6 separate regions of the Homo sapiens genome follow, and all the other regions are reported to be linked to region 6. The links are microRNA targets in miRTarBase. Many come from high-throughput screens and were not tested one by one. Region 6 holds a microRNA gene; each other region holds the end of a gene's coding sequence.
The links. Region 6 holds the annotated microRNA hsa-miR-660-3p (ACCUCCUGUGUGCAUGGAUUA, at 1,354-1,374, shown strand). A microRNA usually pairs through its seed, bases 2 to 8, with sites in the 3' UTR of a target mRNA and lowers its output. Matches are read on the target gene's strand: a 7mer-m8 pairs with bases 2 to 8, a 7mer-A1 pairs with bases 2 to 7 and ends in A, and an 8mer does both.

Region 1: miRTarBase lists TMEM178B as a target of hsa-miR-660-3p. Seed matches in the 3' UTR shown: 7mer-A1 at 676-682 and 7mer-A1 at 673-679.
Region 2: the mRNA of SAMD8 is a reported target of hsa-miR-660-3p. Seed matches in the 3' UTR shown: 8mer at 2,897-2,904, 7mer-m8 at 3,216-3,222, 8mer at 3,375-3,382 and 7mer-m8 at 4,756-4,762.
Region 3: miRTarBase lists TOP3A as a target of hsa-miR-660-3p. Seed matches in the 3' UTR shown: 7mer-m8 at 2,866-2,872 and 7mer-m8 at 2,559-2,565.
Region 4: the mRNA of FAM174C is a reported target of hsa-miR-660-3p. The part of its 3' UTR that is shown has no 7-base or 8-base seed match.
Region 5: the mRNA of CHST15 is a reported target of hsa-miR-660-3p. Seed matches in the 3' UTR shown: 7mer-A1 at 2,642-2,648.

The regions. Positions count from the first base shown.
Region 1 is chr7:141,469,743-141,474,619 of GRCh38, reverse strand. TMEM178B (transmembrane protein 178B) reads right to left here. Exons shown (of 4, transcript NM_001195278.2): 4 at 1-4,084. The coding sequence ends at 3,834. Among named protein-coding and RNA genes, the nearest start is that of AGK-DT, 79 kb to the left of the region's middle.
Region 2 is chr10:75,175,738-75,180,614 of GRCh38, forward strand. SAMD8 (sterile alpha motif domain containing 8) reads left to right here. Exons shown (of 6, transcript NM_001174156.2): 5 at 329-479; 6 at 651-4,877. The coding sequence ends at 955. Among named protein-coding and RNA genes, the nearest start is that of VDAC2, 33 kb to the right of the region's middle.
Region 3 is chr17:18,271,191-18,275,922 of GRCh38, forward strand. TOP3A (DNA topoisomerase III alpha) reads right to left here. Exons shown (of 19, transcript NM_004618.5): 19 at 238-3,790. The coding sequence ends at 3,612. Among named protein-coding and RNA genes, the nearest start is that of MIEF2, 13 kb to the left of the region's middle.
Region 4 is chr19:1,278,509-1,283,277 of GRCh38, reverse strand. FAM174C (family with sequence similarity 174 member C) reads right to left here. Exons shown (of 3, transcript NM_017914.4): 3 at 4,050-4,501. The coding sequence ends at 4,501. Among named protein-coding and RNA genes, the nearest start is that of EFNA2, 5.0 kb to the left of the region's middle. RefSeq lists enhancers at 1-691, 3,542-3,651.
Region 5 is chr10:124,006,010-124,010,886 of GRCh38, forward strand. CHST15 (carbohydrate sulfotransferase 15) reads right to left here. Exons shown (of 8, transcript NM_001270764.2): 8 at 1,659-4,330. The coding sequence ends at 4,140. Among named protein-coding and RNA genes, the nearest start is that of CHST15, 85 kb to the right of the region's middle. RefSeq lists an enhancer at 1-65.
Region 6 is chrX:50,011,939-50,016,815 of GRCh38, forward strand. It overlaps MIR660 (microRNA 660), which reads left to right and starts at 1,303; the gene lies at 1,303-1,399. The region is part of intron 3 of CLCN5 (chloride voltage-gated channel 5); the gene reads left to right. MIR502 (microRNA 502) reads left to right here and starts at 2,660; the gene lies at 2,660-2,745.

The DNA.
Region 1 (4,877 bases), not on the chromosome of region 6:
AGATATGCACCTGGGCTCAGGGCGCTTAAGAAAGTCTTTGTCTAGATTTGGAGGAGTTGTCCAGTCTCTGTGACTCCATGATCCCTGAAGTTGAAAGGGTAGGGTTGTTGAAAAGCTAAGGCTTGGAGGAGGATTGAAGCTGGAACAGGCACAGATTTTATTTTTCATATTTTGATGCCAGGGAGCCACAGACCTCCTTATAAAACCTACAGCCACAATGAACAAGGAAGGGGGCTGCTTGGAGTCTAGGAGCCTCTCTACAGATGAATCACTTGTCTATGTTAATTGACCAAAGTTGATGCAGGAGAAAGTAGGAGTGAGTAGAGAGAGAGGAAACGGAAACAGAAGAAGAAACCGTAACTCCCAAAATAAGGAGAAAAAGATATGGGACCTCTCTCTAGGTAGAATACCTCACTTTCCTGAATCTCAAGGTAGTAGAGTAGGGAAGGAAATAAAAGTTGCAATGGGCCCCAGGCTCAAGGTTGACTTGCATGGAGCTCAAAGCACATACATGTTCATATGCCAGTAAGAAGTTTGAACTTGACCTGGGGTTGCGGCTGGTGACTTTAGTGAGGTCATTGACCCTAAATGCCCTCATAAGGTTGGGTTCCACTTTGATTTGGAGTTAGCAGAGTCTGACCTACAGAGCCTCACAAGTCAAGGCTCCTCTCTTCCTCCTCCTCATCTCCCTCAGCTACCTCACAGCCAGAAAGCTTCCGTAACTGGTTGGAGTCACATGTTTTAATCTGTGGTCAAGCCCTTATGCTAGAGGGATCAAGGTCACCTGAGAAGTCCTCCCATTGGCCAGGACTTGCCGTCTGAAAGGGGCCTCTATCCTGGTCATGTGGCTGGGCGTCTTTTGCTTCCCAGCAGGATCAGATCCCAAAGTGTGTTCGTATTTATCTGGTCCTGCTATCAAAGAAGTCACTCAAAGCCCCTGCTCTGGGCTGGTGAGTTGAGCCCAGGTTGTTTACGTCTTTCCTGGGAGCTTTCTAACATTTCAGGAACTCTCAAGGTTTCAAAGGGATGCAGTAAGCTTTGCTAAATGTCTGTCACAAAGACAATAATTGGATAGAGCAGATAATCTATTCATTGAAAGTATGGGATTTTTTTTTAAAAAGAGGATATAAATAATGATAGGTCTGTGAGCCAGCATCCTCAAACATGATTACTTACAAAAAGTTTAAATGGTTCATAGCAAATTTCCCCATTTAGAATTTTTCCCCTCTCTCCTGCAACTGGAAAAAAGCTGGAATTTCAGTGTGGTCATAGACAAGCCCTCTCCCCCAAATGGATGCTTGTGAACCTGTCTGTCCCTTCCTCGGCAGAGCCCCTTCAGGACGCTTGGAAGGAAGACAAAAGGCCTCTCAATCTGAGATACTTTTCTTCACTTTTCCTTAAGCCCAAGTATGCCCTTCCCCTTAAGGGAGAAATCTAACTTTTCAAAGAAAATTAGAAATAAAATGCCCAATTGAAAAACTGGGTTTTCCTGAAAATTATTTCCCTTCTCATAGAATAAATCCTTTGTTTTAAAAATAATCCTTAGAACCCCAACTGGAAGCTAACAACTTTTCCCGTTGCACACCTTACCCTATCGCCCAGCACACCCACACACAGGGAACTCACACATGAGACCTTTTGCAGAAGCTGACCAGAGTCCCCGGTAAGGAAGTCTTGAGTAGGGCACCCACACCTGTGTGCAGGTGTGTACTGACACAAACGTACACAAAATGCACCAGAGAGATACACATACAGAGAGATCCACATTCAACCCCATTCATGCACATCAGATGTCATATCATATCCAGATATGAATTACATACACGCAGTTCAAAGGAGCAGATGAGGGTGGAAGATAGAAGAGAGAGAAGGTAAGTGGTTAGTAGGTGAGAAAAGGAGGAGAGTGGTAGGAAGATGGGTTGGAAGACGTGTAAATGAAACAGATTACACAGCAGTGGAAGAAAGGCTGCTGAGTGCCTGGCAAAGCTCCCAAAGCATATTTGTTTATGAAACAAGGGGATTCTCTGCTACACAGTTGACCATGGCTACACCAGCTCAGGGATTCTCACCTGGCCTCCCCAGGGCTGCTGGGCACCAGCAGGCTCACTGAGATGACTGTGAGCGGCTCCAGCCCACTCCAGCAGACTCCCACCCCTACAGCGTTCACAACTCTCTGGCTGACTTTGCTTGCCAGCACCTGCAGTGCTAATTTGCTCAAATGAGCCCGAGACACTGGGGTGGATTTATTCCACCTCTGTTTGGGTGCTAGCCACTAAGACTGTTATTTTGGGATTCATGGCCTTGAATATCAAGAGGGAAAGGAAGAGGATGGAAAGAGTCAAGAGTTCTGCATTAATTTACACAATATCATACAAACTTGAGCCCATGGGAAATGGAGGTGCTCTCTCTGCATGTGACCCACTTCCTTTCGTTTGTACAGAGGTCACCCCTAGGGAAAGGGGAGATGTCCAGTGACAAAGGACAGCTTCTATAATGGGGAGTGAAGGTCTTGTTGGTTTATGTTCTTGTACAACAGCAACCAGAGCAACATTTCTTCTCTCTCCTGAACTGTGTGTTCCCCCTCTTCTCTCATGGCTTATGTGCCCAGCTGTGTCTTGAACTTCCAAAATTAGAGGACTAAATCGTGCAGAGTCCCAGAGCTGTAATGTGGAGAACCACGGGGGTCCTCTGGCCCAGTGGCTTTGTTCTTGGTTCTGCCCTCTGGAAATTTCAGCTATACCAGAAACAATTTAAAAAAACACAACACAAACAATAAAACCCCACGCTCAAGAAACATCCACCACACACACACACACACACACACACACACACACACACGCACACACACACCACTCCAGGGATCTGTAGCTGCAGAATTGGCACCCTTATAGGCCTGTCCCTCATGACAATTTCTAGGTCTCTGGGCCTCTATCTGGGGCCATGAAACCACTACAGTGATAAGAGAGACAACAGTCATAATGCAGTATTTCCATTTAAAAGGTAGAAAAGAAAAAAAGGAAACCGCCCAAAGTACACATGCACGCACACCCACACACACACATCACAGCATGACTCCAAGGCTCCAGTCTGCCCAGGGAGTGCAGGTGCGGCTGGGGACAGGGTGGCCTCTTGTTTCACTGGGTGTAAGGCAGCTGGAAGGTAAGACTGGGTTGTCTGAGCATCCACCGAAGCGTCCTTTCATTGATGCAGATCTTGCCTCTCAGCATGTTCTCTTCCCTTCCCACCTATGAAACATGGTCCAAAAGTTTGGCAGCAAAGAGAAAACGTCCTTCTCAGTTTGTTTTCTCTTCCACTCCTTGTGTGTTGCTGGTGGGCTGGGAAGGAAGTCCGAACAGGAAGAGCAGGAGAAGAAGTGATTCTGAAAATGGCCTCAATAATTTGGTTACATTCTAGGAACTGAGGGCTTTGTTACCCTGTGATATGACTGGTTAGGGGTGGCGTCCTCTCCCGTTGACCCAGTGGGTGGCACTTCCTTCTCTACATCTGTGCTGCCTCAGACCCCTTCCACTGTCCCTTCACCACCCCATCCTCGCCAGTGATGGGGATCAAGACGCGGTCGCAAGTGGTGGTGTTTGCTCTGTCTTCAAGAGACCATGAAGCCAAAAGTCAAGAACTGATGGAAGAGCCACAGGATGGAAAAACTTTCCCCATCTCAGAGATGAGGCAACACAAAGTCCGGCGAGATGCAGGTGCCTGAGCCAACTCAACTCTACCTTGGCACTGGCATCGTCTTGATTTAGTTTTGTTTTGTTTTATATATGTATATTATATATATATATTTATATATATATATGTATGTATGGGTTTGTTTTTTAGCACACTGTCCCATTCTCGGGTCTGGATTTAGGGTAGTTGGTCCTCGGGACAGGTTGAACAGAAGGGGCTAAGGTACAGAAGAATCCCGAGATGAGTGTGAGGCCCAGGCCCCCCCATGCACAGAACATGGACCAGCCATAGCCATGGCTGATGTCATCAGGGAGTCCGTACAGGTAGCGTGGGTAGCGTGACAGCTCAAAGTTGATCCCGGCCACACAGGTGCACAGTGAAATGATGCAGAAGGTTCCTGGAGGACAAGGGAAAAGACACAGGATGGGGAAATGGAGAAGGAAAGGGGAGAGGAGCGGGAGAGAGAAAGAGAAAAGTTAATATTATTACATTTTCAATTTTCTTGAGTAGGAAAAATGGGAAGTCTAGGTAAGAGCAGGTTATCACCAAGGTCAGTATCTGGAAATATTCATGGAGCAGAGAATAGTATTAAAGGATCATCACTTCATCACTCTCCAATAATGGCCCAGTCTTGGACACACTCGGGAAGTCTCTCCTTTGGGAAGATGCTAAATAGATATCTCATGAGCATTTTGTGTGGGGTAGAGTGAGCAGAAGAGCATTCAGTTCATTTTCCTAAAGCATTTTAAATTCATTGTATTTCTTTGGAGACATGGAAAACACCTACTGTTTGCTACTTCTTTAAAGAGAAAAACAATCTTTTCTCTTTCTTATACATAACAACTTACTCATACAGTATTAGGTTTTCCTTTAATCTGTTCACCAACAATTCTTCCAAAACCTGGAAATATTTTCCTTTTTCCTATAAGACATTTCCCAAAGTGTTCTCTCTGGAGTGCTAACGCTATGAGATCCTTTACAAAGTGGGAGGCAGAGTCAAAAGACGGGGAATCCTACTCATGACTTCTCACCCATGAACACGCATCATCCACGTTAATATTAAGGTAACTCATCTACCCTACTTTATGCAGAATTTCACAAACTTATTGATGATGGGACGTCCTCTTAAAAACATTACTTATATCAGTCTCTAATAAGAAAACTGCTATAAGAGGTAGAATGATATAAAA
Region 2 (4,877 bases), not on the chromosome of region 6:
GGGGTTTCGCCATGTTGGCCAGGCTGATGTTGAACTCCTGACATCAGGTGATCCACCCACCTCAGCCTCCCAAAGTGCTGGGATTACAGGCATGAGCCACTGTGCCCAGTCTGATTTCATTTAATTACCAAAATATTTCTGAGTACAGCCAAGCTTTGCCCACCCATTCTTGAAGTCTGGCTGGAATTCATTAGACTGAAGGCCTAGATGCTTTGGCTTAGATCTTATTTCTAAGTTATTCAGCATTTGAATTTCAATAGGAATGGATGTTGGGAAGTTCCCACCTCCCTAAGCATTTGAAGCACTAATTCATAACTTTTCTTCATAGATATATGGCAGTGTATGGGAGAAATTACATCGAGCCTTTGCCATTTGGAGTGGCTTTGGTATGACCCTGACTGGCGTTCACACATGTGGAGATTACATGTTTAGTGGCCACACAGTCGTCCTAACTATGCTGAATTTCTTTGTCACCGAATGTAAGTATCTTTTTAGTGCTTCTATGCGTATTAGGTAACTAGCTGCAGTGAAGGCTGTGGGAAGGGTGTCAGATCCTGTGAAGAATGGCAAAACAGCCTGACCTGAGAAACGTGACTGAGAAGCATTGGAAGGAATGTAGCTTTAAAATGATCTTTCTGTCCTTTTCCTAGATACACCAAGAAGCTGGAATTTCTTGCACACTTTATCCTGGGTTCTCAACCTCTTTGGAATCTTCTTCATCTTGGCTGCCCATGAACATTATTCTATTGATGTGTTTATTGCTTTTTATATAACAACAAGACTCTTTTTGTACTACCATACTCTGGCCAATACCAGAGCATATCAGCAGAGTAGGAGAGCAAGGATTTGGTTTCCCATGTTCTCTTTTTTTGAATGCAATGTTAATGGCACAGTACCTAATGAATATTGTTGGCCATTTTCAAAACCAGCAATAATGAAAAGACTAATTGGATGAATACTATCTTTCTAATGAATTTGTGATTAAATATATAATAGTTGTTGAAAATGAGTAACTTTGCGTTCTCCCCCTAGGTTGTTCTTAGATGCCTGGCTTATGTGTTGACAAAGTAAAGTTTTCTGTTCTGAGCAAAGTTATGATTATAAAAAGCAAGAAAGAACAATCAAGAGTCCTTATGTAGCTATTTGAACAGAAAGCTTAAGTAGATGTTTTCTGCCCCTTCTCTTTAGGAAGACTTAATGTTGTGATTGAAGTCAGGCTGTACCCTTACCTGTTGAGTATTTGCTTATTGAACTTTAAACAAGTCAACTTGAGCAGTTTGCTGGTTGAGGAATTTTCATTGATTTCCAGTAGGGCTCTAGTCAAGAAATAATATGTTTTGAAGCTCCTTATTACCTTTAGAAGAAGAAACCCTAACAAGTGACAGTACTTGTTCTTTGGACTAATCTTTGTTTCATTTTAAAAAATGCAACCCTGGGACATGATCTGTTTTACTGACAAAGAGTTTTTGCCTTCTGAACCATCTTTAAATATACTGAGCATACCAGGATGCCTGAAATAAGAAGAGAATGAAAGAGGCCATAGATGACGTGACAGAGTACTGGCTAGGATGCCATTGGTCTCCTCATTAATGCAAATGTAGGGCTGGCATATTTCACCAAAGATGCAACAAAAGATGCAGTGCCAGTGTGACCCTCAGTGAGTATTCATGAGGGAAAAATGGCTGCATCCATAAAAATAAATGGGCTTAATGTTAGTGGTATAGGTACCCAGAATAACTTCTTTGTGCTATAGTTGTTAGATGACAGTTCAATTTTATGCTTTTTTAATGGTGTTATTAAATGAGCCAAATAGGAGTGTTTTACCAGATGTTAGATAAAGTTCTTAATGCCGTTAAGTAGGGAGGTATGCATGCAAAGAATTGTTTTCTCCTGAAAAGAAACTTACAGCACGCAAAATATAACTTTTTGGTTTTTGAAATTTATCATTCTTGGCTGTTGGAAGTAAACAGTCTCAGACATACTTGGATATGAAAAAGTTTCGTTGTTTTTTACTTTTAAATATAATGGTGTATATACATTCTTTCTATTTAGTCTTAATTTGGCAGTCAGGAAGTGATATAACTTAGCTGCTATTTACAACACTAGAAATTTAGTACTTTAAGTAATTTCACATCTATGATAACATTTGTTACTTTATTTTTAATGATTTTTTTACAGTAGTTATGACAGTAGGATGGTTATGGAATTGGAATTTAAACTCCCAACTAATGAGCTTAAGCTGCTTGGAATATTAATTATGTAGTTTTTACATTCCATTTTAAAACAAAAACTTAGAAAAGGTGCTGGCATTCTGAGGCCTGCAATTAGGCCACATAGCAGAAGCTTGCTCCTTCCTTATCTGGGTGAAATATTTTATTTTTGCACTTTGAGTCATATTCCCACCCCTGTATAAGCTACATAGGAGCCTGAATGAATTGGGTAGGAAAGGAAATTATGCAAACAAGTCTCAGCTAGTGCTGAATGACCCCAATTTGGGTCTGCTGTGAACATCATTTTTGTATTTCTCACTTGAGAAATGCTGCAAGGCAATTCAACTTTTATGCTTTTAAATCTCACAACTCAGAATCTGATATCTTAAATCACTGATTCTGTTACATGCTAGGAACAAAATGCCAACATCTCATGTAAAGAAGTTGCATAATCATGAAAAATAAAGGATGTTTCCTATGCCAGTTAGAGTGGTTTGACCCTTCAGGTAAAAAGATATGTTACTGTTATTTTTCTACGTGACAGAACAGACTGAATTTAGCTAGGGAGGCAGTGATGTTGGCTTTTGGGAAAGGGTTCAAAAAACTGTATGGCAACATTAATGCTAAAATGTTAAGCCGAGTGCAGTGGTGCAAGGCTATAGTCCCAGGTTCTGAGGAGGCTGAGGCAGGAGGATTGCTTGAGGCCAGGAGTTAGAAACTAGAGTGTGTTATAACGCCTATGAATAACCACTGCATTCCAGCCCGGGCAAGGTAGCAAGACCCATTCTCTTAAAAACATGGCTGGGTGCAATGGCTCACGCCTGTAATCCCAGCACTTTGGGAGGCCAAGGCAGGCGGATGGCTTGAGGTCAGGAGTTCGAGATTAGCCTGGCCAATATGGTGAAACCTCATCTCTACTAAAACTACAAAAATTAGCTGGGCATGGTGGCACGCACTTGTAATCCCAGCTACTTGGGAGACTGAGGAACAAGAAACACTTGAACCCAGGAGGTGGAGTTTGCATTGAGCTGAGATCACTCCACTGCACTCCAGCCTAGGTGACAGAGTGAGACTCCATCTCAAAACGAAACAAAACAAAACAAAACAAATTAGAGTGGGTGCAGTGTCTAATGCCTGTAATCGCAGCACTTTGGGAGGCTAAGGCAGGAGGATCACTTGAGCTCAGGTAAAAGAGACCAGCCTGGGCAACAAAGTGAGACCTCATCCCCACAAAAAGTTGTTTAGAAAATTAGCTGGGCGTGGTGATGCATGCCTGTGGTCCCAGCTACATGGGAGGCTGAGGCAGAAGGATCACTTGAGCCCAAGGAGGTTGAGGCTACAGTGAGCTGTAATCATGCCACTGCACTCCAGCCTTGGGGACAGAGTGAGACCCTGCCTCAATCAATCAATCAATCAATAACAAAAACTTAAATAGCTATTAACCTCAGTCTTCTTTCCTTCATATAAATTCTATTCTAAGACCAAATAGAAAAATAAATGTAACTAACTTTGCAGAGCTATTGACATTGAGAGACCTAACAACAGACTGCAATGGGGATTGTAAAATAACTTTTCAGCCTTGCACTTGCTCATATATGTTTTGAGAAAAATGTAAGTTAGGTATAACTTATTGTTTTAACTATTATAAGGCAGTGTTTACATAAATTAATCATCTCTTTCTTGGAAAACATTGAGACAAATTTATTTTCAGTTTTACTTAAACATGAAACCTGTATTTTAGTTGCTTTTTGTTTTGTCCAGAAATTTCCAGATTTTGTCTTCATTTTTTTTCCTGGTTAAAATCTAAACCATAGTGAAGATAGTATTTATGTTTACATTTTATCTGTGAATGTGGCTAAGCAGAGAAGCTACATGGCTTTGGTCTACATATTTTTTGACCTTGTATTTGGTTCTGTAGTTGCAGACTTGTGAAGGCTTACATCATCATGGAGACTTTAGTAAGGAAGGAACCAAAAGGTTTTTGGTTTGGGGATGCAAACTGGAGGTTATGTTACAAGTCTTCAATGCATTTTCTGTGTTCCTGGCAGCAGTGTTGCCTTTTTTTTTCTTTTCCTTTTTTTTTTTTAAAGACCAGGTAGGGTAGTGTTATTGAAGGGTAATTGAAGAGTGGTAGAGAGTAAGAGGTTTTGAAGGAGGCAGGTTTGCTGTTATCACAAAATAATTTGGGGGAAACCTTTCGTGGCTGTGCTGCAAGAATTCTTTATGTGGCTATCCTCTCCATAGTTTTCTGACCAGAATTGCAAGGGCAAAAATAGAACTTCTAGCTCTATTTATTTGTATCCTTTGAAATCAGAACTTATCCTTAGAACCAGTCAGTTAAATAATGCGGACTATGCCTATAATCCCAGCACTTTAGGAGGCTGAGGCAGGCAGATCACGAGGTCAGGAGTTCGAGGCCAGCCTGGCCAATGTGGTGAAACTCCGTCTCTACTAAAAATACAAAAATTAGCCGGGCGTGGTGGTGCACGCCCATGCCTGTAGTCCCAGCTACTCGGGAGGCTGAGGCAGAAGAATCGCTTGAACCCAGGAGGCGGAGGTTGCAGTGAGCCGAGATACTGCCACTACACTTCAGTCTGGGTGACAGAGCGAGACTCCATCTCAAAAAAACAAAACAAAATAAAATAATAATGTGGGCTATTCAGAAGA
Region 3 (4,732 bases), not on the chromosome of region 6:
GCAGGAGGTTGAAACCACTGTAGGTGACAGCCTGGCCAGTGCCTAGTCTCAGCTAGATCCATCAAGGGGGGGGCGGGGGGGGTCCATTTTCTTTTCCTTGGTTTTGCATTGCACAAGCTGCAGATGTGGCTCAACACAGGGACTAAAAACCCTTCCAGTCAACGTTGACGGGGTAGGATGAGCTGCATGCTGCTAACCTGAGTGGGCCATCGAGAGAGACTTAGAAATTCCAACAGGTTTGATTTGTGAAGCTTTAATTTGCAGTCGTGCCTGACCGTAAGCCTTCACTAGAGAGCCTCAATATGAACAAGGACACCCCATTACGGATGAGGCAACTGGGGCTCCAAGGATGAGGCTGCACACCCAGGGTGGCAGAAGAGGCCAGGAAGTGGGAGCTGAGCCTGGGTCTGTCTGATCTCAGATGCCTGGCCCAGTCCATGGTGCAGCCCAATCCTGCAGTTTGCTTTTGAGACACACAGTTGCCTGCAGAGATGTGAAAACCACAAAGGCATCTGATATCCAGAAACTATTAAGAACTCCTACAACTCAACAACAAAGACAGACAACACAATTTAAAAATGGGGGAAGAGACCAGGTGTGATGGCTCCTGCCTGTTAATCCTAGCACTTTGGGAGGCCGAGGCTGGTAGATCACCTGAGGTCACGAGTTTGAGACCAGCCTGGCCAACATGGTGAAACCCCGTCTTTACTAAAAATACTAAACAAATTAGCTGGGTGTGGAGGCAGATGCCTGTAATTCCAGCTACTTGGGAGGCTGAGGCAGGAGAACTGCTTGAACCCAGGAGGCAGAGGTTGCAGTGAGCCAAGATCGCACCACTGCACTCCAGCCTGGGCACAAGAGCGAAACTCCATCTCAAAAAAAAATAAAAAATAAAAAATAAAAAATGGGTGAAGAACTTAAATCGACATTCTCCAAAGAATGTATACCAATGGCCAGTAAGCCTGTGGAAAGATGGTCAATGTCATTAATGACTAGGAAAATGCAAAACAAAACCACAATGACACGCCACTTCATACCCACTAGGATGACAAAACACTAGGATGGCTATAATACAAGAAAAGGAAAGGAACAAGTGTTCACAAGGATATGGAGAAGCAGTAACCCTGGTGTGCTGCTGGTGGGTGTAAAGTGGTGCATCCACTGTGGAAAATTTGTAGGTTCCTCAAAAAGTCAAAACATGGAGTTATGGTATAAAACTACAATTCCATTCCTCGGCATATGCCCAAAATAACTGAAAACAAGTCATCAGACACTCATACACCAATGTTCACAACAGTGCTATTCACAATAGCCAAAAAGTGGAAACAACCCAATGTCCATCAACTGACAAATGGATAATCGTGTGGTATATTCATACAGTGGGCTATCAGCTTATCATAAACATCGAGGACTGACATGCTACAATGTGGATGAGCCTGACAAACATCAGCCAAGTCAAAGAAACCAGACACAGGATGTCATGTATGGTAGGATTTCATTTTTTTTTTTTTCTTGAGACAGAGTTTCACTCTTTTTGCCCAGGCTGGAGTGCAATGGCCCGATCTCAGCTCACTGCAACCTCTGCTTCCTGAGTAGCTGGGATTACAGGTGCCTGACACCACGCCCGGCTAATTTTTGTATTTTTTTAGAGACGGGGTTTCATCATATTGGTCAGGCTGGTCTCGAACTCCTGACCTCAGGTGATCTGCCCACCTTGGCCTCCCAAAGTGCTAGGATTACAGGCGTGAGCCACTGTGCCCAGCCTGGTATGATTCCATTTAAACAAAATATCCAGAGTAGGTAAACCCACAGAGACAAAAAGTGGTTGGTGGTACCCCGGAGCTGGGATAGGCAAAATCACACACGCAGGGCCACAACCCACACCCACTCGGAGATGTTCCAGGAACAATCTCAGGAACCTGCATTTGTAAAAATCCTCCCCAATACCCCATCAGAACACAGAGCCACTGGTCTATGGGCCAGGAGCCCAAGACCTGAGAACAATCCTAGTTTCTTCAACAACTAGCAACATGACTGGGCAACTCACACCCACCTCTGCTCATCTTCTAAACTGTAAATCAGAGTCCATATGGCTTGTATTATTCACAAGGTTTTTGTGAAGGCAAACGGGGGAACATGGCCACCACTGGAAAAAGTGGAAGATGGAAAGTTAGTGATCTGAATCTGAACCTTTCATTAGACATCTCTGCTCTGAGGGACCATCTGTGGGGTGAGAAGAAATTGGGCTCAGTGCTTACCATGTGGAAAGGGAGGAAGGGCTCTCCACATGGGACACAAGGGACAGCCATGAAGGACAGAGGCTGACGAGACCTCCCAGGGTGAGCTCCTTCCAGCACTGGCTGGTACCTGTTGCTTCTGCAAATGTTCCCCAGACCCTCTGCACTCTCGCAGGTCAGAGTAAAAAAAGGTTGGATTCTTTCATTTTAAAAAAAGTTTGAGACAGGGTCTTACTCTGTCACCCAGGCTGGAGTGCAGTGGTGTGATCATGGCTTGCTGCAGCCTCAAACTCTTGGGTTCAAAGGATCCTCCCACTTCAGCCTCCTGAGCAGCTGAACTAAAGACGTGTACAACTGTGCTTGTTATATTTTTAAAAATAGAGACAAGGTCTAACTATGTTGCCCAGGCTGGTCTTGAACTCCTGATCTCAAGCAATCCTCCAGCCTTGGCCTCCCTAAGTGCTGGATTACAGGTGTGAGCCTCCACGCCCTGCCGGGGTTGGATTCTTTTTATTTTTTTAAATTTTTAAATTTTTTTTGAGACTGAGTCTCGCTCTGTCGTCCAGTGGCGCAATCTCAGCTAACTGCAACCTCCGCCTCCCGGGTTCAAGCAATTCTCCTGCCTCAGCCTCCTGAGTAGCCGGGTCTACAGGCGCACACCGCCACACCTGGCTAATTTTTTGTATTTTAGTAGAGACAGGGTTTCACCATGTTGCCCTGGCTGGTCTCGAACTCCTGAGCTCAGGCAATCCGCCCCCCACAGCCTCCCAAAGTGCTGGGATTACAGGCATGAGCCACTGCACCCGGCCTGGGTTCTTTATTAAAGCAATGAATTCTGGATGTCCTGGCTTAACTAGATTAAGAGGGAATGAAGCTTCTTCTGAAGGATCAGTGTTACCACAGCCATTTCCTTGCATTACACCGTCCTTCTCAGGACGTCTATGAGAAGCCCTGGGCAGCCTGGACAGGGACTGCCCCATGAGTGCTGGTGGCTCACTTGGGGCTTTCTGCAGGTGAAGGAAGCAGCCCTGGGAGCTTCTTCCTTTGGCACACAGTGGGCTTCAGCTGGGACTGCACCAATCCTCTGCTAACAGCAACCATCCTTGGGGGGTCCGAGGGAGCAGCTGCGTGACTTTTCAGCAGTGGCTATGGTCACTCCTGAGGCCTGGGAAGAGGGTCACTGTCCAGCAGAGCTGGCCTGCTCCAGAGTGATCTGGACCTTGTGCCCCTTAACACAAGAAGGCCCGACTCCAAAGGCCAACACTGTCCTCTAAGTTTCCAGGACACTAAATGGCCACTTGGTCCTGGTTAACTCATTTCTAAACACAAAGGGGACAGGTCTGAGAAAGTGGCGTTCTCTACCCTACCCTGAGCTCATCTGTTCTGAGGACAAAAGGGACGGGTGTGTCCAGGCTGGTGGCAAAGGCTGCATTTCCGGGGTTTCTTTGCTGTGGACCCCATGTCTGAGGAACTGGCCCGGGGCCTTTTGCTTCTGGCTTCCGACTCCAGGGTTCTTCCTCTGTCTCCTGTCCAGGACGGGGCTCCAGAAGTCCCTGTCGGGAGAGTCAGGGGAGGGGTGAGGTTAGAACTGACATGCAGAAGTGGCAAGTCCTGAACACGGTGGCTCATGCCTGTAATCCCAGCACTTTAGGAAGCTGAGGGAGGAGGATTGCTTGAGCCCAGGAGTTCAAGATCAGCCTGGGCAACATGGTGAAACCTTGTCTTTAAAAAATGCAAAAATTAGCCAGGTGTGGTGTATGCCTGTGGTCACAGCTACTCGGGAGGATGCCTGAGCCTGGGAGGCTACAGTGAGCTGTGATCACACCACTGCACTCCAGCCTGGGCAACAGAGCAAGACCCTGTCTCAAAAAAAAAAAAAAAAAAAAAAAGAGCAGCAGACGATAAGGCTGAACCAACTTTTTTTTTTTTTTTTTTTTTTTTTGAGATGGAGTCTTCGCTCTGTCACCCAGGCTGGAGTGTGGAGTGCAGTGGCGTGATCTCCACTCACTGCAAGCTCCACCTCCCGGGTTCACGCCATTCTCCTGCCTCAGCCTCCCGAGTAGCTGGGACTACAGGCACCCGCCACCACGCCCGGCTACTTTATTTTTTGTATTTTTAGTAGAGACGGGTTTCATCATGTTAGCCAGGATGGTCTCGATCTCCTAACCTTGTGATCCGCCCGCCTTGGCCTCCCGAAGTGCTGGGATTACAGGCGTGAGCCACCGTGCCCGGCCTTTTTTTTTTGAGGTGGAGTCTGGCTCTGTCGCCTAGGCTGGAATGCAGTGGTGCAATCTTGGCTCACTGCAAGCTCCGCCTCCCGGGTTCACGCCATTGTCCTGTCTCAGCCTCCCGAGAGTAGCTGGGACTACAGGGACCGACCACCATGCCCGGCTAATTGTTTGTATTTTTAGTAGAGACGGGGTTTCACTGTGTTAGCCAGGATGGTCTCGATCTCCTGACCTCGTGATCCACCCGCCTCGGCCTCCCAAAGTGCT
Region 4 (4,769 bases), not on the chromosome of region 6:
CAGCCCGTGCCCAGCACCCACTGCCCACATGGCCAGGCCACAGGGCTTGGGATCAGCGTCCCGCAGCCCCTCAGCCTTCAAAGGCCGCGACGCCAGGAGGAAGCTAAAAATATGCGGGGAGAATTTCTCATTACAGAATAAATTGGACCCAATGCGCTGCCTGCCCTGGTGCCGGCAGCCTTCAGAAGCCCCATCTCAGCCAGGCAAGGATCAGGCGGCAGGGGTCACGGGGCGCTGGGGCCCGGGCAGGTCACAGGCTCCACTCAGGGCGGGAGCCCCACCGCTGTCCATCGCCCCCCACCTGCGAAGCACGGAGCTGGGGTCTGCGCTTAGCCCCAGGGGCCAGGGGCGTTTCCCCTGGGCTGGGTCGCTGTCCTTGAAAATAAAAATGTATCCCTTTCTCCAGTGGGTAACATGAAAATCCCCACCCCCATCCAGCCATGGACCCAAGATTCCTGCAACCCCTGCAGCCAGTGGTGGAAAAGAGCAGGCACACAGCCCCATTCCCAGCTCACCCTCCTCCCTCCTCCCCAGCTCCCATCCTTCCCATTCTCCTCTCTTCACACTCTCCTCCCTCCCTCCTCCCCTCCCTCCCTCCTCCCTTCACACCCTCCTCCCTCCCTCCTCCCTTCACACCCTCCTCCCTCCCTCCTCCCCTCCCTCCCTCCTCCCTTCACACCTTCACACCCTCCTCCCTCCCTCCTCCCCTCCCACCCTCCTCCCCCTCCTCCCTTCACACCCTCCTCCCTCCCTCCTCCCCTCCCTCCTTCCCTTCACACCTTTCCCCTCCCTCCCCCTCCCTACTTCCCTCCCACCTCCCCTCCCTCCTTCCCTTCACACCTTCCCCTCCCTCCCTCTCTCCTTCCTCCCCTTCCCACCCTTCTCCCCTCCCTCCTTCCTTCCCCCTTCATACTACCCTCCCCTCCCTCCTCCCCCTTCCCACTCTCTTCCCCCTTAATACCCCCTCCCTTCCTTCCTCTCTCCCTCTCCTTTTACACCTTCCTCCCCTTCTCAGTCCTCCGCTCCCTCCTCCCTCCTTCCCCTTCACACCCTCCTCCCCCCTCCTTCCCCCATCCTCTGCACCCTCCTCTCCTTCCTCCTCCTCCCCTTCCCTCCTTCCTTCCTTCCTCCTCCCATCCTTCCTCTCCATTCACATCCTTCTCCTTCCCACTCTGTCCCCTCCCTCCTCCCCTTCCTCCTCCTTCCTCTCTCCCTCATCCCACCTTCAGGTCTGGGGCCTGAACACAGACCCGTTCTCCAGTGTCCAGACACCACCAGCGTCCAGAACTTTCCAAGACAAAGGAAATGTCCCTGCCCCCACCAATCGCTGTCCACCACAGTGACTGAGGCCCCAGACCTCTCCCCACGGCGACTGAGGACCCGGACCTCTCCCCATGGCGACTGAGGACCTCTCCCCATGGTGACTGAGGCCCTGGACCTCCAGTTTTATGTAACTTAATGAAATAACGTGAATAGCCATGTGTGGCTTTGTGTCCCACAGCAAAGCACTGGGTGCTTCTCAGGGGCTGGCTGGCCTAGGACGGGGACGTCAGTGGCCTTAATGTGGGGTCAGTGGTGGCTCAGGCCCCCCACAGAGGAGATGGGCACCTGGGGGTGAGATCCCTGGAGGTGGGGAGTCGAGGGTACAGGGGTCTCAGCACCCCCAGAAGAGGCAGAGAGCCCTCCGTCGCCTGCCAACCCGAGTGACTGTGATTTGGCACATGGGGCCACATCCCTGGGGCACCCCGGCACCAGGGCGGCAGAGGAGCCCTGTCTCTATCTCCCCAGGATGAATGTCGGCCCCAAGCTGTGGGCACAAGCCGGCGCCGCAAGGAACCCAACGCATCCCGCCTTTGAGGCCACGTCCCCAGCGCCCACCCGCCCCTATTTCACAAGCGGAGAAGCCCCGCAGTGAGTCCACTGGACTCCAGCCTGGGCGGGGCCCGCTGCTGAAGCAGAGACCCCCACCCCCCCCCACCCAGAGGCACAGACCTGATATGCTGCTTGTCCAGTGGGCACACCGAGGGGCAAGGGTGGGGGGCATGGGTCTGAGACACTCCCCGGCGTGGGGTTAGGAGCTGAGCAGGTCACACCCATGTGTGTGATCGCGTGTCCCACGGGGCTGCGGGCGTCCCATCCATGGAACTGTCCGAGTTGCTTACCGTGTGTCTATGAGACTGTATTTTGTGGGTGCCTGCGTGTCTGCGTGTCTGCGTGGGAGAGGTGGAGGAAGCCACTGCCCGCCCCCGCAAGCTCCCAGGCACCCGCACACACACGCACTCCCACGGGCACACACACGCTCACAAGCCGAGCACCAGCCGGGACCTGGGGCCTTTCATTTCTCGCTGACAGGCCCCTCTCCGGCTCTGAGCCCAGGAGAACCCCTGGCTAACAGTGCATTAACCTTGGGGGGCTGCCAATTACTCTGCAGCAACGTGGGGTGCAGCACGGGCCCCGACAGGCAGAGGGGACGGAGGCAGCAGAGCCCCTCTCCCTGCTCGAGCGGGGGGCGGCGGCGGCTGGGCTGGGGGCTGCGGCATGTTCCGACTCCGGATGGCAGAGCGTGGGTCTCTCCTGACCTCATTAGAGTAATTAATGTGCCTTTTGAAGCTGGTGAAAGCGCTCAGAGCTGTGGGACGGGGGGCACAGATCACAGGGTTGGGGGCCGGGGCTGGTGTCTCCGTGCCTGTTAAAAGTGTGTCCCAAAGGGTCAGACATGGAGACAGAGACGGACAGAGACAAAGTGAAGGAGGCAGATGGAGAGATGCAAACGGGAGTTTGGAGACAGACGCAACGGCCAGACAGATGGGGAACAGCAGAGCCCGAGTCATAGGTGTGACTTGCTTGTCCCCAGTCCCACACACAGCCAGGCTGAGCCAAGCTGCCCTCCCCACCTGCAGTCTCAGGGGCCTCCCTCGGGCTCTGCCCTCACTTTAAGGGTTGCTTCCCCAACCTTCCCTGCAGGATTCCCCTAAAGAACAGGCTGGGGTGGGCAATCAGGGAGGACTTCCTGGAGGCGGCAGCTGAGGCTGGGGCAGAGAAGGACCCAGGGCACTGGAAGGGGAAGGAGAAACGTAAGCAGAGTCTTGGCAGGCCTGGTCAGACGGACATGCCCAAGGGAACAGATAGTACCAGGACAGGGGACCCTGGTCTGAAGGGGCGATAGCCTGGCCCCCAGTGGAGACAGCCCCTCCCAACCCTGGCGGCAGACAGGGAGGGTCGGCAGGTATGTGAGATGCAAACCTGGGGGACTGCCCATCCCCCAGTGGATGTGAGGACACGGTGGGTTCAGGAAGTGGAGTGACAAATGGGCTGTGCTGGACTTGCTTTCCCACATGAAGGGTTAGGACCAAGGAGACAGCCAGAGGACTGGGCGGCTCAAGGCTGCCACCTGGTGGCAGCTCCTCCTCGTGACAGGGCAGTGGCAGCTCCAGACAGGTTGCCTGTGGGGGACCTCAGGCCATGGGTACCCACGCACCATGGTCTCTCCAAGGCTAACCTCATGGGGGACAGGATGACAGGCCAGGGCTGGACTCCGCCCAGACACAGGCCCCTGCAGGAAGAACAAGGCCCCAGGGAAGCTGATTAAGCACCTTGCCTGGGATGGGGTCTCAGGCTCCAAGTCCCACAGGAGGCAGATGGGGGAGGAGTGTCCGGCATGGGGACCCAGGCCGCACGGAACTCCAGCCTCCTGCAGCAGAGCTCTGGGGCTCCCTGGAATCATTGCCAGAGGTATTCATGAGGGTGATGTGGGGATCCTCCAGGGCAGGGCCCATGAGACCCAGGCTGAAGGGATGGCATAGAGGGGGCCCTGGGGCAGGGGCTTTGACGGATGAATAGGAGTTCTCTCTAGGAAGAGAGATGCTGACAGGCAGGGCCTCATCCCAGGCAGCTGAAGATGGGTTCCTTACTTGGGAGCAAGGCTGGAGAACCCAAGCATGGTCGCAGATGGGGAACCGAGGCTGGCTTGAGCCCTGCTCCGCCACCCACCCCCACACTGGCTGCACCAGTACGCACGGGTCTAGAGGTGGCATGGGGTCAGCACCAGCTGCAGAGACATGGCTGCATTTATTGTTCCCAGCCCGGCGAGAAGGTGTTCCCAGAAAGGTTCCTTGGGTCACCTGCCCACCCAGCCTTGGCTCTGGGCTGCCATGTCCCCACGGGGGCAGGAGAGAGGCACAAGTCACAGTCAGGCAAGGGAGCCTCAGCGTCCTGGGCGGTGGCTGTTGGGGTCCCTCCAGTCTTCACCTGGGACCCTCGGCCAGGCTGGGACAGCATCCAGGAGGCGAGGCTGCATGGTCCAGCGGTGGGTGCAGGTGGCAACAGGTCGGCGGGCTGTGCAGGTTCCAAAAGGAGCTCTCGGGTTGGCACTGGGTGAGACCAGCCCCGGGGCCAGCAGGGGAATGAGCGGTGGAGCAGGGGGTTGCTGGGCACTGGGGTGGGCCCCATCTCCTGTCCTTCCCTCATGGCTGCTGGAAGGGCCGCCTCCCTGGCTCAGCATCTGAAAGCAGGGGGTCAAGGGTGAGAGGGAAGGAGTGAAGGGCCCGCCCTGCCGGGCAGAGGCTCACCCAGGTCAGGCAGGGGCAGGCAGCCTGTCCAGGCCCCTCGGTCTACCAGGGCCCAGCCTCCCCCCACTGGCCTCCCTCCCCGGCCTCCTGGGCCCTGTGCAACTGCCCACTCCGGGGGAAGGGGCCCCCAGCCAGGAGGTAGAAGAAACCTGGGAGGGGTTCCCAGAATGGAGTCAGAGCATGCGGAGGGATCCCAGTGCC
Region 5 (4,877 bases), not on the chromosome of region 6:
CTGCCCTCCCCTGTGACCTCTGCGCAGCCCGCCCTCTTCACCTTCCGCCAGGCGTGAAGCAGCCTGAGGCTTTCACCCAATGCTCAATCCTTAGCCAGCAGAATCGTGAGCCAAACAAGCCTTTTTTCCTTTATACATTTCCAGCCTCAGGTACTCCTTTATAGCAACATAAATTCACAAAGCTCCCAGGCCGACAGCTGTTCCGGCCGATGCAGCTTCTGCCCCACGGGACCTATTCTGTCTCTGCTGCTCTGCAGGGAACCTTGCCCGGTGAAGTACTGGGAAAACCCGATTCATCAGAGTGATGTTTTCCTATCAGTCCCCATGGGATCCACCTCACCATAGGCAGCACAGCTGCCTGGAGGGTGAGATTTCTGGAGTAACAGGAAAATAGTCACCCACATAATCCCTGTCTCCACACTCAGGGATCCTTGGAGTTCCTCCACCTGGAGCACAGCCTTTGCTTCAGTTCCCAAATAGGGTCATTTTGTGGGGAAGAGGCATACTCCTCATCAGGATCCTTCCCGAGGGCTGGTTTCTCGGTGGGGAGTGGGTGGCCTCACGGGAGAGGCTTTCAGAGGAAATCTGAAATGGAGGGAGGTCATACCCTCAGCCCTCAAAGATGCACCCCAGCCGTCCTGCTCCTGACTCCCACCCGTCCTCCATTCCCTGCTGGGTAAAGCCATTCCTGACCCTCGCAGGAAAAGATGGGGTCTTCCCTATTTCCAGCCTGGACACACCTGCCCCCTACCTCAACACACCACTGTGGGAGGTGGTGCTGGGGAGAAGGCTCCCCCAGGAAGGTCTGCCCAGAACTGGGGGACCCACCATGGTCCACGCTGTGCTCAGGATGGCCCAGCTTTCAGAGCCCTAAGCCTGAGATGTCCCCTCTGTATGGGCTGAAAAGTGTGCCCCAAATTCGTATGTTGAAGTCCCAATCTCGAGTACCTCAGAATGTCACTGCATTTGCAGATAAAGTTGTTTAAAGAGATGATGAGGTTAAGATGAGGCTGTCAGAGCACGCCTTCATCCACTCCGACTGGTGTCCTTATAAGGAGAGGAAGAGGCAGCAGGGGTGTGTGTGTGTGGCCACATGAACACACAGAGAGAATCAGCCATCAGCAAGCCAAGGACAGAGACCCCCAGAGAAACCAGCCCTGCAGCACCTTGATCTCGGGTCTCTGGCCTCCAGACTGAGAAAATCAGTTTCCGTTGTTTGTGGTCTTTTGTCCTGGCTGCCCCACCTGAGTGCACACCACACCTCCTTCTGCGGGCTTGCCCTCAGCAATAAGGACATGTGCCAGAGACACCAGGGGTCTCAAACTCACAGCTGCCAGGGGCCAGGCAGGCCACCGGAATGAGGCCTGTGGTCACTTAACCTTCAAATTTGAAGGTCTGAAGACAACGCTAGGCCTGACTGTGGCTGGGCCAGACCTCCCACCCTGACTCACACCCCAACAGGACTCGCACAGGGAGTCCCTGCTAACATCTGAATCCTTTTCTCTCTGGTCTTGAGTTTTCTTCTGCCTGTTGCTCGCACAATCACACCTCGTCTCTCAGCAGCCAGCACAGCTGTAACTCCTCTTTACACAGAGCCTGCACAACTCGAGCAGGTGCGACACTAAACCACTGCGATTCACTCATGCACCAGGAAGAGCTTGGCTGCAGAGGAAGAGCACGCGCTCCACAGGCGTCACTCTTATGGGTCCATCTTTAATTATGTTAAATATTAATAAAAGTACAGCGTAACTGCGATTCACTTAACATACCTTACAGGACTAAGGGAGTACAATTTAACACGGTCACAACTTTTGAGAACAAAAAGGAACTTCAATACCATGTTGTGAGAAATGCTCCAATTTGCTTTGGTTTTGAATGGCAGGCTCGAGAACCACCGCCCAGAACGGAACCTATTCTGTCAGCAAGAGCCGGGCCTCGAATGAGAGGAAGCAGAGGCAGCCGAAGTGCCCTCTGGAGAGAAAGGCCCCTGGAGGGAAAAACCATGTCTGGATGGCATTGAGTGGCACAGAAGGGATGGGACTGCATATATAAAAAAGATCCGCATAATAAACCAAATAATATTGGAAATAATACCTTCAGTAATACTTCTGTAAGAAGCAGAATTACACCACATGTTATTCACATGCATAGGAGTGCATAAGAAAAATCCCTTGTTGTAATTATGGTTGGTGTGGAATAGTAAAATATGTACTGAAAATGACAAGTTAATTGGCAGAGAAATTAATCTATAAAAGGGTTGTGTCCAGAGCGGAGGAGCCTCATTAGCAACTGAACAGAACCCACTCAGAAGACGCACTCACCCACACGTGCGCGTACACACACACACACGCGCGCACTGTACTGCAAATAAATATACACACACACTGAAGTGATCTCTCCCTAAAGCATCCTTGTGCTCAGGCCAGATTTCCCTGCTGGCGGCTGCTCCCAGTGCCGGCTATAGAGAAGGTGGGGACTGTCCCTGCAAGTGGGAGTTCAGGACACACGCTCCTTCAGTAGCAAAAACAGCCCTGGCCATCCTGGCGCTCAGAGCCCTCTGCACACCTTCGAACGGGCTGTGTGTCCCTTCTCTGATGGCAGAAAGACAACACCAGCAGAAAGACGGCTGAACAACTGCAGATCCTCCTACCCCCGAAGCCTGGTCTGTCTCACACATACAAGTTAGAGCTGGGTAGACGGGTGCTTGCACTTTCTGGCTTTGGTGGGCGAGACCTTGGCCTGAGAACTTTGGTTCACAGGAAGCTTCCCTTGACAATACTTGAGTGCAAAGCTTCATCCAGGTCCCACCTGGGCTGTTGCCAAGGATGCTCAAGCGTTCTCTTCAATCTTCCCTGTGACTTCCAAGAAACGACAAGATCTCTAGCCCATCCATCGGTAAACCAAGCTGCCAAGTGGCCTGGAAAATTCCATGAAGAACACGGCTCTTAGAAACCTCATTCCAAATCTCAACACGCCACGTTCAGCCCAAGTTCAGCTTGTGCATTGTGTTTTGGAATTGGGACACGAGTATCTATAGTCCCTTGCTGGGTGAGGAACTTTGACCACACGCAGTGGAGAATGTGGAAATAAACTATTTCCAATGGGAAGGCAGAGAAATGGAGCCTGTAGCCGGCCAGAACTAAAAATTAAAATCCTCTGTTTCTCTGATGATCTTGTAAACCTGATGAGGGCTTGAATTACCTAGATTTTCCAAGAAGTGTTCAATTCCTTGAGGTTGCTCATTCTGGCATTAACAGCAAAAATTTCTCTTCCAATTATAAACTGAAGTTCTTGAGAAAACGTATGAAGAGGCAGCAGAGAGAGAGCCAGGACTGGTTAAATGCAGAAAGTGGTTTTGTTTTAAACGCATTCATTTTCTATGTTAAACATAAGTCCACAAGGACAGAATAGGAGGAGGTCAGAAAGATGAAGGTGCTGCCAAAAACTGACTTATTTTTTTCCTTTTGGAAACAGTGACGTTAACAGGGTTTACATCTGAAGAAACTGGAGGGCTGAGTTTGGAGTAAAGGAGAAAAAAAAAATGAAGAGCCTCCATTCTCGAAAGACTGCGGTTCTCTGTCCCAGTGAGGTTAGCGATCGCAACAAGAGTGTTTCAGAAGTGAATGTGGTATGATCACACCTGTGAAGATAGCCATTGAATACAGACAGTCTGTGCAACACGGCGAGACCCCATCTCTAGGGGGAAAAAAAGGGAACGTGAAGTGTAAGTTCCAGCCAGGCCTGTGGCATGACCTCTGGCTTGCTGACTCAGAACCCAGAGGCTCTCCAGAAGGCGGAGGCGGGCAGGGCCAGGCTGCCTTCCCTAGGTGTTCTCTCCACACCCAGTGCAGGCCAGCTGGCTGCATCCCCAAGCTCCAGGACGCTCAGAGCAGAGCTGAATTCTTGAGAAACTGGGGTCTCCAATGGCCTCGGATAGAGGAGCTCTGTGAGGGGTCCATTGCTGAGCTCTCGAACATCACGAAGGAAATTCCAAAATGGTTATAATTCATGTGTGCCTAGAGTGGCAGAGTCCTGGGGTTTTCCATACCATGAGTGAAACAGTTCCCCGCAAAGAGATTTGTAAAATCCTGATGATGACGGCATTGGCGGGCCCAGCACGTGCAGCAACAATTCAGCTCTCACGTCGTCTTCCACGCAAACGCCTCATCCGCGAGGACCTGCGCCAGCCTAGCGTTGAAGGGCCTGTAGAAATCCCGCAGAATCTTCTGTGTGATGGGCCACATGGGCCCCAGGTTCCGGTCCTCGGGACGCCGTGCATTGGATGCGGGGCTCTTGGTCATCAAAGCCTCCTGCTTCTCACTTAAGGGCCCTAGAATAAAAGAAGACGAGTCCCGTAAGGCAGGAGGCATGGCAGGAAGTAAAAGGGACTTTGCAAAAATCCCAGCTATGCTTCGTATTCAGACAGGAGTTTCCTTTAAGAGAACATATTTAGGGATTAAAATTCTTTGGCTGGATCCATTTTGGAAGCACTGAGGGAGGAAGGTGGAAACACCATCAGGAAATTGCGAAGAAATTCTGCGGCGGGTGCAGGATGCCCACCCTCGGGGGAGCCCAGCTGGCATTTAATGATGATACAGCGTCTAAGGCTGACCTCAAGGATTCCCTTCCAATTGCCCTTGGTGGGCTGCTCTCCATGGGTGTCAGCCCGTCCTTGGAGGAACGTGCGGCCTGCCGAGCACAGCCCACGGGTTTCGGTTTTCCTGCTCAGCAGCCCTCTGGAATTCCGCCATCATCGTTTCTACTTCAGGCTGCTCATGCCAAGGTCCCTGGGCCTGCACAGTTTCACCCTGTGCGTCTTGCTGTGAAGTGGCCATAGGGAGGAGGGCTGGGAGGAGGCCACTTGTGCCCAGAGCCCC
Region 6 (4,877 bases):
TGAGCCTTTTCTGCATAGAGCGAAGAACACCTGTTTATAATCCCCATCCTTCATTCATTCCCACCTTTAACAAGCAGGGGTGGCGCTCCTGTCATGCACCAGACATGGAGAGACAGGGTGGTCAAGAAAGACACAGAACTCATACTCACATGCCTAGTGAGCATGTTTAAGAGAAGGAACTTCCGTTGCCCACATTGTTCATGCATACGTATGTAGCAGAGAGTGAGTCTTCCCATCATCCCCTCTCCAACCCCCCAACAGTGCTCAGCTAGAGAACTACAAAAGGTGTGTCTCCCCTTACACAGAGCTGCAGCCACAGTGTGCATAGGATAATGAGTGTCATTAGCAGCATCTTCTCACTCATGTCTGGTGTGCAAGGCAATAGGCTTTCTACTTGCTGCTTATGCCACCAGAGCTTGAAGGAAAGTGGCCCTACTTGTCAGTCATCTCACACATGCATATGAAGAAAAGACACTTCACCTTTGTATGGTCATAGGAAAATCACCTGTGAGCCAGAGAGTGCTGTTTCTTTTGTACATACACACAAACACAATGGATTTGAAGATGCTCGAGCCTTCTATTCAGGTTGTCCCTCTCTTTCATTCTTCGTAGTTGGGTACAAATGCTATTCCAGTCCATTGCCTTGTACAAAAATTCAGAGAGGGAATCTCATCCATGTTTAAAAGTGTAGAGTCTTTGCATCACCCCTCTATGTCCCATTATTTCATTTCTTTAAGTTATGTATAGAGCAGTGGTTCTCAGTGTGGTCCCTGGGCCAGCAGCATCTGTATCACCTAGGAGCTTGTTCAAAATGCCAATTCTTGGGCTCATCCCTGACCTACTACACCATAAACCATGGAAATCTGTACTTTACCAAGGCTCTCAACTGATTCTGATGCTCACTTAAGTTTGAGAATCACTGATTTAGTATAAGTGCTAGCTAGGGGCAGTGATAAGCTAGTCAGGTGAAGGGTGGAAGAGAATGAGCTCCTGCATTGCTCATGTACGTTCCCAATGCCGAGTCCATGCAGACTGTGGCAGGGAAGCCATCATTTCATTACTGTCTCCACCTCCTCCATAACCACACATTCAGTGAGCACATGAGGCTAAGTGAACACACAACAAGTACTTTATTAGGGAATAGACTTGGCACTGCTTCTCCAGGCGTGCACCTGACACTTTAATCTCAATCTGTCTCTCTCTCAATCAATCAATCAATCTCTCTCCTCTCTCTCTCTTTCTCTCTTTCTGTCTTTCTTTCTCTCTCCTCCCCCACCCCCCTCCCATGTGCAGAAGAATGAACTGCTCCTTCTCCCATACCCATTGCATATCGGAGTTGTGAATTCTCAAAACACCTCCTGTGTGCATGGATTACAGGAGGGTGAGCCTTGTCATCGTGAATCTTCTGCTGAACAATCCAAGTAGCCCGTGTTTATTGCGCACTTTTGATGTGCCATGAGCTGTGCTGGGAGTACCCTGCTAAATAATGGACAGTGTCTCTCTCCGGGACTTCCTATCTAGTGGAGGTATTAGGTGCCTAGACTTCCCCAGGCCTAGGCAACAGACACAGGTGTGTCAGGAATTGAGCCTTCTCATTCTCTTATGAATACACATGCTCACATTGTGCATGCATGTGCACACACACATGTGTAAGTGTAGAAACATTTCTGTACAAAGCTGAAAGGAAGGAGCCTTATTATCTAAACTTGCCTGCAAGTTTCCTTGCCACACACACTCAGATGCATGCCTGGTGTGCAGGTGCCTGGACTTTGATTTTTGCTTGCCCTCTCCTAGCCTTGCAGCCTAGGCACAAGTGCTGTCTTAGCAGTGCAATGGGCTTGTGCAAGGATACCAGCTTGTGAGCCTTGCCTATGTGTAGGACAGAGCCTGTCCATCCCTTCTCTTTCCTTTGTTCATTCTTTCAGTCAGTCATTTGTGTGTGCATGTTTTTGGTCCATTCATTTATTCATCCCTTTAACAAATTTACTGAATTCCTGCTGTTTGGGAATGCCACAGTAAACTAACCTGTCAGAGATGCCGACCTTACTGTCTAGCAGGCTCATGGAGAATAAGCATCCTCATGTCATCCAACTTCCTGTGAATACATGGGCTCAGGGTGCCAGAAATCAGGCTTTTCTTTATTCCCTCCCACAGACATGGGTACCTGTGCAAATATATGTGGTGTGCACATCCTGAGCCTGCTGCTCTGCTTCCCCTTGTATCCTTGCCACCTAAATGTGCATGCTGTCTCAGTGCAGCACCTATTCCAGGACTCTCAGAGGGGCCTTTTTCTGCCCATAGACAGACAAAGTGCCTGTGAGTCACACTTCCTCCTCCCTCTCCTTCCCCTCTACCTCCCTTTCACAAGTATTGAGCACTTAGTACATGCTAACGCTGTGCTGCCAGGGCAGTGGGCATATGGTATCACACAAGATGGACTTGGTTCTTGCCTCAAAGAATATGTGTAGGAGACTTGACTTTTTGTCACCTAATATTCCTGCACGTGCTGAGTTAGTGTGGGCCACAACATGGGACTTCTTATTGACACCCTCTCCCAACATATACACAATGCAAGACTCTCATTCCTGTTCTCACACAGAGCTGTGTAACAGAGAACCTTCTCTGCTTCGAGCACGGCAGGTGCCCAAGCCTTCTGCCCTGCTCCCCCTCTCTAATCCTTGCTATCTGGGTGCTAGTGCTGGCTCAATGCAATGCACCTGGGCAAGGATTCAGAGAGGGGGAGCTCAACTGTACCAAGAAGGACAGAGAGCCTAGACATCACCCCTCCCACCCTCCCCTGTCATAGTTTTTGAGTGATGGGTGTGTGTTGGGGAAGCACAGAACAGAATAGTTAGGGACTTCAGGTGCTCTGGTGGGCTTGTCTGTGTATTAGAATAAATGTCCTTATTAAATAATGTCCATGTATGCAGGTATCCAGAGTGAGACAGTGAGCTTTCTCTGTGTTCCCCACCTGCTGTCCACACACAGGGTGGTGGGCGGGAACCAGAGCCTTCTGATTTGCTCCCTCACTTCCTTCCAACCTAGATGTGAGTGCTGTCTCAAGTATTAAGCCAAGGATTCAATGAGATGGAGCCTTGCCTACCTATATGTATATATATGGACTGAGTGCATATATGTCTCTTTTCTTGCCTTCCTATATCTTGAGTTTCTAGAGTGTGACAGATACTCTTTTTAGTGTTAAGGATGCAGTGACAAACGAGAGTCAAAATCACTGGATGTGCTCTCTGATGGGCAGCTTTAGAAGAAAAATTCAGACGGGCACAAATGATGGGGGCCAAAGAGAGAGTCTTCCTATTCCCCCCACTCTGTCCCCTCTGAGGACAGGGAGATGCACACATTCATGAAGATTTACACTTACAGAATGTATAGGAGTTTGAGCTTATAAGCTGCCCTTTATCTTCCAGGACATCCTGAGTAGAACTGTGAGCTGCCTTTAGATGTCTATTACAGACTCTTCTTGAATTAGAGGGGGTGAAGAGCAAGGGACCCTTCTTATTGCTGATCTTGTATGCACCCCACACAATATGGAAATGAGAACAGCCTATATCTTTATATTACCTTACTTTAGTCAAATAGAGATGGACTATACATGTCTCTGTTTCAGTCTATCGCTCTCTCTGTCCGTCTCTCCATCTCTCTCTCTCTCTCACCTAGGGAGTACAGGTGCCCATGATCTGATTCACTCCCCTCCTCCCATCCTTAGCGCCTGAGCCTGAGTGCTTTCTACTGTGACCTCAGCAGTATTCTTCAGTTGTTACTCTCTTCTTAGCTAAGCTGATCTATTCATTCCTCCCCATCTTATCATTTTTGCTCATTGCCCATTGCAAATTTATAGTGTTCAGGTCAGCGTAGCAATACAGTATTATAAATAGTGGTGACAGAGACAGAAAGAGACACACACTCCATTTCAGTCCTCAAGTTCTTAAACATTTGGGACTTATAGATTCTGATCCTTGGTCCTTCTTCTCTCCCAGATTCTCCCAATCTAACCTGCAGTAAAGATTCAGGTTATTTAATATGTGCTCCTTATCTTTTGTATACTCTAAAATCTCATTTTGGTTACTGCTCAGCCTTAGTCTTATTTTATCAGACTTTATACCTCTCTTGATGCCCAAGACTAGCAGCATCAGCATCCTCCAGGAACTTGTTAGAAATAAACTCTCAGGCCTCACCTCAGACCTAGGTAATCAGAAAGTCAGGGGTGGGGCCCAGCAATCTGTGTTTTAACAGCCCTCCAGGTGATTCTGATGCACACTGAAGTTTGAGAACCATTGGTTTAAATGACTTAAAATTTCTATTCTGTCATTACTAGGGGGATTTCTGTGTTACACAGGATGATTTTTAGCATCAAAATTTCCTTATGTGTAAATGGCTCTTTTAGTTTCTTTTCATATTTTAAAAATTCATAGACTTTTTTGAGCAGTTTTAGGTTTACAAAAAGATTGAATGGAAAGTATAGAGTTGTTATATATTCTCGAGACACCCCAGTTTCCGCTATTAACATCTTGCATGAGTGTTGTACACTTGTTAAAATTGATGGGCTAATGTTGAGACATTATTATTAAATAATAGTATAATTATAATGTATTATAACTATTATTAAATAATAGTTTAAATATAATTATTAATGTAAACCATAGTTTACATTAGAGTTCCCTCTTTGTGTTATATACTCTATGGGTTTTGACAAGTGTATAATGACATGCATGACCATTATAGTATCATACAGAATAGTTTCACTGCCCTAAAATTCCTCTGAGTTCTGCCTATTTATCCCCCCTCCCCCACCCTAAACCCCTGGCAACCGCTGATCATTTTTCTGTCTCCATAGTTTAGCCTTTTCCAGAATGTCATAT